Linked DNA regions of Homo sapiens. The protein of the gene in region 1 interacts with the protein of each later gene in a pairwise test. Each region holds a gene or a part of one and is shown on either strand. Other genes may lie near its edges.

Region 1 (3,115 bases):
CAGCCAGCACAGGCCTCACACAGCGCAGCCCATTACTCTGCATTCATCTACTCCTTGCCTTTTGCCGTCTCTGTGCTGACCAAGTTGTTGCTGGAGCATGCCAGACCTGTTTCCCACCTCGAAGCTGTGGCCTGCACTGAGCAGTGCCCCCACCTCTGCCCCCACCGTTTACACTTCCAACCACCCAACACTCAAGATGGGTTGTGTTTTTAAACTGTGGCACACAGTAGGCATTTAAATATGGCCACAAGGTGCCTTGGCATCTTTGTGACTTAATTAGGACTCGATCTGTTCTAACCATTTTCTCCTTTCATGAGGTAGGATCAGGTTCTTCACTGGAGGGGGATCCAGACAGACTAATGTGGCCTTTGACACCATGGAAGGATGCACAATAGACAGGACAGCATCATAGGGTGGCCTCCCAGGCACAGTAACCCTCTCCTAGGTGTCCTGAGAGCATCAGAACTCCCGCCCTACCTGCCTCTGAGGAAGGGCTGCAGAGAAGCCTCTACCCGCCCTGGGCGTGAGGGAAGCCAGGTTTGTGTGATTCGTGCAAAGAAAACCCGACAGGCCAGCGAGTGTCTTGTCAAGCTTTATTGGGCAGGTGACTTTTGCTCGTTTCACTCAGATCTTGTGGGCTTCTCGGCGGCAACTCAGGGCTTGAGCATTTGATGTAGGGGAGTTGCTATGGCCTCACTCGGTGTTTCTTGGGCAGGTGACTTTCTCTTAACTTCCAGCTGGGGGCTTGAGCATTTGATGTAGGGGAATTGCTATGGCCTCACTTGGTGTTTCGGGCGACTTTTTCTTAATTTCCAGCTGGGGGTGAGGGGCCCAGGAAGCTTAGTGCCTTCTGCATGTTCTCTTCCTGGTTCTGCAGCCTTTTGGGAAAGAAAGTTCTGGTTGAGGGGGTCACCTAGGGACTCTGGGTGGGGACGGGGGTTAGGGGGCTGGAGCTTTTGTCAGGTGGGGTGGGTCCCCGCCTCCCTCCTGTGCCTGGGGTGGTCAGGGACATGCAGGGCAAGGCGGGGGCGCAGGCAGACCTCTGCGATGCCTCCTCCGGTGCCTGCAGGAGCGTCTTTTGCGCCTTCTGCAGGAGCGATGCTGCCGCCTGTGGATCCGGTGCAGCCTCCTTCGAGAGCAGTGTCTGCGCCTATAGTGAGACTGGCCATGGGTCCTCTCGTAGACCTCGACGTGCTCCGGGCTCAGCCCTTGCTCCTCTTGGCCGTGGTGTCCTTGCTCTTGCCCATGCAACTGCTGCCTGTACACCTCGTGCGAGCGTTCGCTCAGGCTCCTCACGCGGTATCGGACCATGGTGTTGGGAGATCTGGTGGCTCCTGGGCTGAGGCTGCAGTGGGCCCTGGAGTAGGGGAGGAGGGCGGAGGCCTGCCCACCTGCCCTTGGTGTTACTGTTGGTCTGGTCTGCAAGGCTCCCCGGGAGCTTGTATATAAAGGGGGCGCCCACTATGACTCTGCGGCCCCGCCCAGTCCCCACCCTGCCCAGCCTCCTCTGTGAGGGCAGCACAGGGCCAGGGGTCACAACTAGCAGGGCCCTGGCACCCAAGCTGCAGGGCTGGAAGGGCGAGAGACCCCCTTGCCTTGCCTGTAAAGCATGTCCTCTGTCTCTTGCAGTAGGTGAACCATACAGATGGCAGGTGTTTTATTGCCTAATCCAAGCCCTCATCTCCCCAAGCCGGTGGGTGCGCACATTGTCATTTGGAAGCTTCCTTGCCAACTCACTGCTGTGCCACAGCCACCATGTGGAAGGGACTTCCGTGCTTGGATCTCTGTGCACACAGCTTACTGTTAAGATGGCAACAGCAGCAAACAGTTCCCTAATAGCTCCTATGTGCCAAGCATTGATTCATTTATTTCCCATACATTCACTCATTCTCTCTCTCTCTCTCTCTCTCTCTCTCTCTCCTCTTTTTGTTTTGAGGCACTGTCTGTCGCCCAGGCTGGAGTGCAGTTGTGCAATCATGGATCATAGCAGCCTCTACCCCTCCAGCTCAGATGATCCTGCCACCTCAGCCTCCCGAGTAGCTGGGACTATAGGCGTGTGCTGCCACTCCCAGCTAATTTTTTGTATTTTTTGTGGAGATAGATAGGGTTTCACCATGTTGCCCTGGCTGGTCTCACACTCCTGGCCTCAGTGAGCCTCCCATGTCGGCCTCCCAGAGTGCTGGGATTACAGGTGTGAGCCACCACCCTTGCATTCCTCACTCTTACAATCCTCATTTTCTGTGGGGCAAACAGGCATGAAGAAGTTGAGTTGCTCAAGGCCACTCTGCTGAGAAGGCCAGGCCGGGCCAGCATTCAGACGGAGACAGCCTGGTTTTAGTCATACCCTTGGCTCTCCACCTCCTCCCTAGCCCAGGGAATGCTCCCCTCTCCGCCTCCAAAATATTCATCTTCTCCCCTCCCGCTCGGCCTTGCCGGGGCTTCTCATTGAACTTTGATGATCCCATTAAAGTCCGGGATCAGAATCACAGAAACTGCAAAACCAGTTTCCCTTTCATGGAGGGCAGGGAGAATGTGGGAATGTGGCAGATACACAAATTTAAGGACTTGAAGATGCAGAGATCATCCCAGATGATCTGGGTTGGCCCAGTGCAGTCACGAGGGTCCTTAGAAGAGAGAATAGGGAGGCAGGAGGGTCACAGGAAGAGAAACTGGGAGACACCACACTGCTGGCTTTGAAGATGGAGGGAGAGGCTATAAGCCAAGGGATGCAGGCGGCCTCTAGAAGCTGGGATGGACAAGGAAATGGGTTATCCTCCCCTCGTGCATCCAGGAGGAACACAGCCCTGCTGACCCCTTGATTTTAGCCCCATGAGACTTCTTTCAGAATTCTGACCTGCAGACCTGTAAGATAATGCATTTATGTTGTTTAAAGCTACAAAATTTGTGATGATCTGTCACAGTGGCAATAAGAAACAAATTCAGGAGGCTTAATCTTCAGATCCTTACAGGAGGTGATGGGTGATATTGCCATGCCCTTGGTGTTTCTATGCTGCCTCTCTTTAGGGATAAGAAGGTCCTTTATGATGGCCCTCAAGCTCTTCGAGGGCGCGTGTTAAAAATATGAATGCTGAGGCCTTACCCTACGTCCCGCTAA
Region 2 (3,749 bases), 6.5 Mb from region 1:
TCGGCCTCCCTAGTAGCTGGGACTGTAGGCACACGCCACCATACCCAGCTGATTTTTGCACTGCTTTTTTTTTTTTTTTTTTTGAGACGCAGTCTCGCTCTGTCACCCAGGCTGGAGCGCGATGGTGGGATCTCGGTTCACTGCAAGCTCCGCCTCCCAGATTCACGCCATTCCCCTGTCTCAGCCTCCCAAGTAGCTGGGACTACAGGCGCCCGCCACCACGCCTGGCTAATTTTTTTGTATTTTTAGTAGAGACGGGGTTTCACCATGTTAGCCAGGATGGTCTTGATTTCCTGACCTCATGATCCGCCTGCCTCAGCCTCCCAAAGTGCTGGGATTACAGGCGTGAGCCACCACACCCGGCCTTGCACTGTTTTTTAATTTTTAAGACAGGGTCTCAATCTGTCACCCAGACTCAAGTGATCGCAGCTCACTGCAACCTCCACCCTCAGGTTCAAACGATCCTCCCACCTCAGCCCCCCAAGTAGCTGGGATTCAGGTGCATGTCACCATGCCTGGCTAATTTTTAAATTTTTTTTGTAGAGATGGGGTCTTGCTGTGTTGCCTAGGCTGGTCATGAACTCCTGGCCTCCAGGGATCCTTCTGCTTCAGTCTTGCTCTGTCACCCAGGCTGGAGTACAGTGGCGCAATCTCGGCTCACTACAACATCTGCCTCCCAGGTTCAAGCAATTCTCCTGCCTTAGCCTCCTAAGTAGCTCCTAAGTACAGGCGCCCACCACCACGCCTGGCAAATTTTTGTATTTTTAGTAGAGACGGAGTTTCCCCATGTTGGCCAGGCTGTTTTCGAACTCCTGACCTCAAGTGACCCTCCTGCCTTGGCCTTTCAAAGTGCTGGAATTACAGGCTTGAGCCACCATGCCCGGCCTCATTTTTGTACTTTTTGTAGACATTAGGTTTTGCTAGTCTCAAACTCCTGAGCTCAAGTGATCCACCCACCTCAGTCTCCCAAAACCCTGGATTATAGGTGTGAGCCACCGCTCCAGGCACATTTTTGTCTTTTAATGACTCAGCATTTCTCAAATTTTCAATGACAACATCCCTGTGAGGTGCTATTATCAGGCCCACCTAAGAGATGGGGAGGGGCGACAGGCTGCCAAAGGTGAGGCCACACGCCCAGGCACGCGTAGCACTGTGGGTCTGTCCTGCCGTGGGCCCTACCTCTCACTCACCCACCACCATGATGTTGAACTCAAACCCCATCTTCATAGCCTTGATCTTCAGCTGGTCCAGCACAGCCTCAATGCCCACAGGACCAAGCATCTCGCAGGGTGGGGTGCTGGGGCTGGAGGGCTGCGAGGACAGGCAGGGAGAGGGGGAGCGCCTCAGGGGGTCCATGGGGGCCAAGGGTTCGAGATGCCTGTCACCAGGTGGGTGGGGAGAAGGGGGTCACTGGGGCTCAGAGGAGCCCACATTGACCTCTCCTATCTGAACCCCTATTTGAGCTTGGCCGTTGGCCAACCCCCTCCACACTTCATGCCTCTGGTGTACCCTAAGTGCCTGTAGTCCCAGGGGTGTGGCAAGGGTGCCTGTGGGGAGCTGTTTCTGCAGGGTGCCTCAACACCCATCCAGAGAGGCTCCGCTGCCCAAGGGTCTGCCCTGTCCCCACCTACAGCCCAGGCAGGGGCCTCTCAGGTCGCTTCCCCCAGCAGAGCCTGGAGGGCCAGGCAAAGTCCAGGATGGGTGTTTGCAGCCAGGCTGGAGTCCTGGAGGGGCTTCAGGGAGTGTGTATGGGGTGAAGTGGCTCCCGTCCCAGCAGGAAACTTGGGCAGGGGGCTCAGGAGGAGGTGCCCCCACTTTCCCCAGGGGGACACACAGCAGAGTTGATAGAGAGCGAGAAAGACGGCACAGGCATGAAGGTGACGGAGACAGAGAGAGAGAGACCAAGGTCAGGCAGGGAAGATGGCTGGGAGGGAGCGGTGCGAAGAGCCCACGGGGGGCAGAGAGAGAGAGAAGCAGCCTGCTGTGACACCTGGTGGACGTGGGTCCTGGTGGAGCTTCCAGGAGCTGCCTTGTCCTGGCAGGGCCTGGTGTGTGTGATGGGGGAGGGGAGAGGGTGACAGTTAACCGAAGAATCTGAGCTCCATCTGCACTTGCTGTGACCCCCACCTGGAGGCTTCTCTGCAGCAGGAGCAGGAGCTGTTACCCTTCTAATCCCCACAATGACCCCAGCCTAATAATACAATAATCCCCAAGTAGAACCAGGGGCCCAAGGCCCCCTCGTCAGCTGGGCTCCCACCTCCAAGCTGACGCCCTCAACCACTCTGCTGGGGTGAGCAAACCCAGGCCCCACAGCTGGCTAGCGGGATATCCGTGTCCACGATTGGCGCCATGTGTTTTAAGTTGCAGCGTCAAAAACATGAAGAGATTGCTTTAGCAAATATTTACCCAGTCCTGACTCTGCACATGGCATCGTTCTAGGAGCCCAAAGATGTTAACTTGTTTAATAATCAAGCCCTGTGAAGTAAGTGCTGTTACTACCCCAAGCTGATAGATAAGAGAGGGTCAGGTGAGGAGGTGGCAGAGTCTCTGCCGCTCTGAGTCTGTGTGCTCACCCTCTACTGCCTTTTTCTGGTTTACAGAAACATCTAGATTTCCGGTGTATCTTAGAGGTTATCACCCTGACTTGAGATGCCCTCTTTAAATAGGCCATGTGCTTTCCAGACTGTGGTCCTCACCCCTGCCTTACTGTCTCTCTGATAAGCTGTTTCTTTTTTTGTTGTTTGTTTTTGAGACAGCCTCGCTCTGTTGCCCTTGCTGGAATGCAGTGGCGCGATCTCGGCTCACTGCAACCTCCGCCTCCTGGGTTCAAGCAATTCTCTTGCCTCAGCCTCCCAAGTAGCTGGATTACCGGTGTGCACCACCACGCTAATTTTGTATTTTTAGTAGAGAAGGGGTTTCACCACATTGGTCAGGCTAGTCACAAGCTTCTGACCTCAAGTGATCCACCAACCCTGGTCTCCCAAAGTGTTGGGATTAGTGAGCCACCATGCCTGGCCTTTTTTTTTCTTTTTTCCTTTTTTTCTTTTTTTTTTTGAGACGGAGTCTCGCTCTGTCACCCAGGCTGGAGTTTAGTGGCATGATCTCGGCTCACTGTAAGCTCTGCCTCCCGGGTTCACGCCGCTCTCCTGCCTCAGCCTCCCGAGTAGCTGGGACTACAGGCGCCTGCCACCACGCCCGGCTAATTTTTTCCTATTTTTAGTAGAGACTGGTTTTCCCTGTGTTAGCCAGGATGGTCTCGATCTCCTGATCTCGTGATCTGCCCTCCTCGGCCTCCCAAAGTGCTGGGATTACAGGCGTTAGCCCCTGCGCCCAGCCCTTTTTAAAATTTTTTTGAGACACGGTCTCACTATGTTGCCCATGCTGGTCTCAAACTCCTGGGTTCTAGTGATCCTCTCACCTCAGCCTCCCTAAATGCTGAGATTACAGACGTGAACCACCATGCCCAGCCTGATAAGCTGTTTCTTATACCAAGTCCATCTCACACAGTTAATTCTTTCTTGTTTCCTGGTACTTGACTTCACAAGGCTTAGGCATTCCTGTGTCCTTGCTATTGGCAAATGTTTTCTCTTTCTTTTTTCTTTCTTTTCTCCTTTCTTTTCTTTCTTTTTTTTTTTTCTTTTTTGGGACAGGGTCTCACTTTGTCACCCAAGTTGGAGTGCAGAGGCACAATGACAGCTCACTGCAGCCTCGACTTCCTGGGTTCAAGTGATCCTCCTGCCCCAGCCTCC

What was found. The genes of interacting proteins can lie anywhere in the genome.
Region 2: the proteins of PRM2 (region 1) and SEPTIN12 interact in a two-hybrid assay, tested with the Homo sapiens proteins (one study listed by IntAct).

The regions. Positions count from the first base shown.
Region 1 is NC_000016.10:11,275,060-11,278,174, forward strand, and holds PRM2 (protamine-2), read right to left. Parts: upstream 1,422-3,115; 5' UTR 1,312-1,421; coding exon 1,041-1,311; coding exon of another isoform or gene 1,003-1,040; exon of another isoform or gene 994-1,002; intron 923-993; coding exon of another isoform or gene 879-922; coding exon 841-878; coding exon of another isoform or gene 771-840; 3' UTR 580-770; downstream 1-579.
Region 2 is NC_000016.10:4,786,290-4,790,038, forward strand, and holds the start of SEPTIN12 (septin-12), read right to left. Parts: upstream 2,057-3,749; 5' UTR 1,991-2,056; exon of another isoform or gene 1,628-1,990; intron 1,379-1,627; 5' UTR 1,357-1,378; coding exon 1,191-1,356; exon of another isoform or gene 1,180-1,190; intron 1-1,179. UniProt on the Homo sapiens protein: Filament-forming cytoskeletal GTPase. Involved in spermatogenesis. Involved in the morphogenesis of sperm heads and the elongation of sperm tails probably implicating the association with alpha- and beta-tubulins.